Linked DNA regions of Homo sapiens: region 2 is linked to region 1. The links come from fine-mapping of genetic effects on gene expression. Tissue or cell type: whole blood. Region 1 holds a variant in brackets; the other region holds the start of a gene. All regions are shown on one strand. Distances are from middle to middle.

The links. PIP is the estimated chance that this variant, and not a neighbour inherited with it, causes the effect.
Region 2: it holds the start of SLCO4C1, and the variant in region 1 is fine-mapped to the expression of SLCO4C1 in whole blood (INTERVAL, PIP 0.95).

Annotation. Positions count from the first base shown.
Region 1 is chr5:102,398,564-102,401,254 of GRCh38, reverse strand. SLCO6A1 (solute carrier organic anion transporter family member 6A1) reads left to right here. Exons shown (of 14, transcript NM_173488.5): 10 at 1,513-1,700. Among named protein-coding and RNA genes, the nearest start is that of SLCO6A1, 99 kb to the left of the region's middle. The variant CAG/G (reference allele first, on the strand shown) is at 1,309.
Region 2 is chr5:102,294,818-102,297,508 of GRCh38, reverse strand. It overlaps SLCO4C1 (solute carrier organic anion transporter family member 4C1), which reads left to right and starts at 1,225. Exons shown (of 13, transcript NM_180991.5): 1 at 1,225-1,601. The coding sequence starts at 1,247. RefSeq lists an enhancer at 1,260-1,459.

The DNA of each region.
Region 1 (2,691 bases):
CTTGTTTTTCTTTCAACTTTTCAAGCAAGCTCTACCACAAGGCTTTTCAATTACTGTTCCTTTTTTTTTACTTGAAACATTCTTTTAGATAACCATGTGGTCCACTCACTTACCTTTTTCAGATCTCAGCTCAAATATCACTTCATCATCAAAACATTCTCTGATCATGTTAAGTATTGTCCTATAACCCCCCCAATATTCCCTGTACTTTTCCTTGTTTTATTATTTTCTCCATAGCACTTATCATTAAATACTCAAGTTCCTTTTTTTTAAAATGTCCTGTCTCCCCAAATAGAAAGTTTTCTACATGGAATGGTGGTTTCTATATTATTGTTTACTGTGTTTTCCCAAAACCTAGATTGATGATTGGCATATAGGCACTCAAAAAAATATTTGGTGGAATGAAGGAATTGATATTTGGATATTTGGGTATTTATATTATTTAACATATTTATTAACCTCTCAGCAACTTCACCTATCAAACTGACATAAATTTGTCTGAATTATAATTTTCTGAATAACCCAGATTCAAGTTATGTTTAATTTCTCTTATTTTTTCACTAGTAAAATCTAATTCAATATTTCTGCTAAATTTATTGTATTGTTCTTTTCTTCTTATTTTTTAGTTTAGAATATTTCCAATAAATTAATAAATTGCGAACTGGTCTCTGCATCTTTAAACTCTGTTTAATTCTCCTTAGAAAATGTCACCAATTCATCTGCCTTAAATTATCCACCCTACAACCACAACTCCAAATTCTCATTGGCTTTCCATTCAGGACTGCAGTATGAATCTCATTGACTCTAGACACTTTTGCCTTCGTGCTCTCTTTTCTTCACTAAAAAATTAATAATGATAAAGAAATTATTTTATCTACACCACATTGGTGTGAAAAAATACAATCCAAGCTGGATTCATCATTATATATTCATTTTATATAATTTATTATTATACACTTTTTTCTTTGATTTTAAAATGCTTTAAAATTAAAATATTTTATGTGGTTCTGAATATGTTACAGATTCTAGGCATTGTGTCTGTTGTCCCAAATGGATAGCAGCCCTGTCATTATTACATACAAAATAAAGTCTTTTTAGTATGGTTTCAAAGCCTTTCACAATTGGGTAACTATCCATATTTTAAATCTCAGCTAAAATTCCATTTTTTGTTACATTATTTTTAATTTCCCTCAATTTATATATTTAACAATTTCTTATGAATTTGAATATAAATATTCTGAGGAAAATTTCTTAAATTAACAGAGCTTTTCCTAAGTAATTATAATTACACACACACACACACACACA[CAG/G]ATTTTTTGCCATGTAAAATACCTTGGATTTATCATTAATGTTTCATTTCTAAATAATACATAGCAGGCTTAATATAAAGACATTTTGAAATAAAACTAATGAGTCTCCTTGCAGTTATTGATTTAATTTTTATTTTATGATAAGAACTTTTGTTTATGACTATTTTTCTGAAAGATTGTTTCCTGTCTTCAATACTCACAGATGTACTACAATTGTTCTTGCATTAAAGAAGGATTAATAACTGCAGATGCAGAAGGTGATTTTATTGATGCCAGACCCGGGAAATGTGATGCAAAGTGCTATAAGTTACCTTTGTTCATTGCTTTTATCTTTTCTACACTTATATTTTCTGGTTTTTCTGGTGTACCAATCGTCTTGGCCATGACGCGGTATGTATATATTACTCATTATTATTGTTTATTTAATATATAAGAAAAGTAATTTTGGAAAGATTTTAGAATATTGTAGCAAATAATTTACTCTGTGTTTCATGGTAGCAAATGCAGAGGAAAAGTTGTTAAATTGACACAATTCATGTGTATAATTATTTCTCTTTTAGCTAACTTATTTGCATAGAGTATGTAAATATCACATTGTTTAACTTTAATTTAAAACAATGTATTTACCTAATTTAACACACATAGAAACATTATAAATATAGGAAAAAAATATTAATTTTAACAGATTTGATTATAATGTTAACTCATTATAATTGGTCATAGGAATTTATTAACTATTTACATCCATATTGCTTAATTTGACTATGAGAAAGCATGAGTGTCATCAACAAAGGAGCATAATAACTTTTAGAATTTCAGTATATAATTTTTATTATTATTCTAAACAAAACCAACATTTATTATTTATGCGTTCTTCCTAAATATATGAAATCCATTTAATATTCATTTGTATCATAGTGCAGAATAATTGTTTTGTTATTTTCAATTTTTTTTTTCAAGACGCTAACAAAAAACTTTAAGGCGTGAAAAGCCTGCATAGGCTGACCAGGAAACAAAGAGAGGAAAATGGTAATTTCTATCTGAGTTGATTTGGAAGTACTATAAGATCTATTCCATAAAATGACTTATAAAGATAAATGATTTCTCATGATACAAGCAGGCGGGGGACAAGACCTTAGCAGGAAAAGTGAGCAGTGAAAGTGAAGCCAAAAAATGTATGAAATATCCTGGCAAAAAGTCTGCTATGACAGGATAGCATGATAATGAATGAGGCAAAGAGATTTGAGCTAGGTAAGGGCCCAATTCACATTAACACGACCTTCTTTGCCATGTTAACATGAATGTTGCTATTCTGTGTACACACCTGGGAACCACTGAAAACTGCAAACCTCAAGAGCGAAAGTGATCAGATGGCATTTTA
Region 2 (2,691 bases), 100 kb after region 1:
AATCCACCCGCCTCAGCCTCCCAAAGTGCTAGGATTACAGGCGTGAGCCACCGCGCCTGGCCCGGTAGAAATTATTTACATGATTGTCATCACTGTATATCTTACATATGCAATATACAGCAGAGAGACAATTTCTGGTCCTTCAGTTTCGGAGAAGGAAAAGCAAAGCAGTGGTTATGCTGTGATGTTCATCCTGGTGGTGATGGGGGTGGGGTGGGGTGGATTTCTTTTTCTAAGGAGGACTGAGGCAGGAAAATAGGGTCTGGAGGCAGGAAACATAAGGCCTATTCACACTTCAGCTGTAACAGGAAATATCCTCTCCATAGGGCGTAGGCCATAAATGACTTTGTAACTTTACTTCATCTTCTCCCTTTACATAGGGCATACCCAAAGTAACCAATGGAATCCTCTAGGGGGTATTTAAACTCCCCAAAATTCTGTAACCGGGCCTTTGAGCCCCTATGCTCGCCCGTTCCCACACTGTGGAGTGTACTTTCATTTTCAATAAACCCCTTCATTCCTTCCTTGCTTTGTTTGTGCGTTTTCTTCAATTCTTTCTTCAAGATGCCAAGAACCTGGACACCTTCTACCAGTAACAGGATGACAGGCAAGAGTCTTATCAAGATGCTCATGAACCAAAGTATACCTCTGACGTCTTGATTCTTGGAGTCCAAGCCTAGACTGCTTTGGTAAGCAGCAAAGGAAGAAAACGCAAGATAGTTTCCTGAACAATCTCCTGATGCAACTGTTTACAGGTTTCATGTCAGCACCCAAGGGGAGCTTATGGCCAGAGACTCCCACAGTCTCTGTGTGTTCCCAGTGCTTGGGCTCAAGGGAGGCGCGCTGCGGGCTGAAGGCTCAGGTCAGAACCGCAGGGGCTTGGGCGGAGGCGGACTCCGGTCGAAGGCTGTGGGGTGAGAACTCTCGCCCCCTCTACTCGGCCGCCGCCGGGTGGCACGCCCACGCCGCGCCTTCCGGTTGGTCCTTGAGGCGACGGGTGAGGCACAGCTGAGCGCCAAAGCCACAGGCTGGGGCGCTAACGCCCCCGCTCAGCGCTCTGCGCTCCAGACAGCTGCGAGCTGGAGTAGGAAGGTTCAGGCGGTGGCGGAGAGTGCGCTGGAGGCTGGAGGGCCAGGAGGCGGGAAGCTTCCCGCACGGGGGCGCTGTCACCTGCCTGTGGGAGGAGCCAGAGAGGGACCTGGCTCTGCTGCTCTGAAGCACCGGAGTCGGGAGAACCCATCCAGACATGAAGAGCGCCAAAGGTATTGAGAACTTGGCTTTTGTCCCCTCCAGCCCAGACATCCTGCGCCGCTTGTCTGCGTCGCCCTCCCAAATCGAAGTCTCTGCCTTGTCCTCTGACCCCCAAAGAGAGAATTCTCAGCCACAGGAGCTTCAGAAGCCCCAGGAGCCCCAGAAGTCACCAGAGCCATCTCTGCCTTCAGCCCCTCCCAATGTCTCCGAAGAGAAGCTCCGGTCACTGTCGCTGTCCGAGTTTGAGGAGGGGTCTTACGGCTGGAGGAACTTCCATCCTCAATGTCTCCAGCGCTGCAACACACCTGGAGGCTTTCTGCTTCACTACTGCCTCTTGGCCGTCACGCAAGGTAAAGTCCAGCGCCCGCTTGAGGCTCGGGCCAGTGGAGAGCGAGGTGGGCACGGCGAGCCAGCCGGGGGAGAGGGCAGGTGCGCGGGGTCCGTGGGACGGTGGACGCGCCCTGCAAGGTGGCCCCGGGTTTGGAACTTGCTTGCGCTCTCACCAAGGTCAACCTACCGGCCCCCAGCCAGCCTTCCAAAGTTCAGCTTCTCCTTTATCACTACAGTTCAAACTTGCAATACAAGCCTTTTTCTCTTTTGTGTTTTACCTCAGTTTAGCGGATTCAAGACTTACAGGGAAGATTACAAGAACCTTCCTTTGGGAAAGGTATACCCTGGGGAGTTTATTTTACATTATAAAGACAAAAATTTACCTAGGCACTCTTTAAAGGTATTTTACTTTTACATTTGTTTCATTGCCTCAGGGGAAGGAGTAATACGTTTGCAGGTGGGAGTGGGATGCCTTACAAGGAAGAAAGCTATGAAAAATCTATCGTATAAATTAGATACAGACATTCATGTTTTGTGAGTGTATTTAGTTTGAGAGTATGTGGTCACCAGAGGAGCCCAGTGAGTAAATTAGCAAAGGCTCCCGACGTTGTTGAGCCTTAATCTTCATTGTGTTACATTAGTTATCCAGCATCTGTTTTGTTCTAGGATCTCTTTTAGGTTCTCTTGGGAGTTACAGATTCAGTTCAGATTTATACCCTCAGGGGCTTGCAATCTAAGCTCAGTTTGGAGGAGTGATATCCTGGAGGGAGAACAGCTCCCTTGAAAGAAGGCACAGGGAAGGTTAAAGCTGCTTCTGGTGTGTTCAATACAGAGGTTGAAGGAAAATAGGAAGTTAACCTGAGTTGACTTTGAGGAAGGGTGGAGAAGAGGTGGAGAGGAGTCAAGAAGGACATGCCGAAGCTTAGCTGAATTGGAATGTAGATATTTTTTGGTCACTTGAGTCATAGTCCGAGAATATTTTCTGTATAATCAGTCAAGGATTAATTGGAAGAAATACAACCTTAGAAATATAGATTTTAGAGGGTTGGAAACAGCTCATTTTTTAAGTTAATAGAAAACTAAGTCAAAGCCTAAGTATACTTTTTGTTC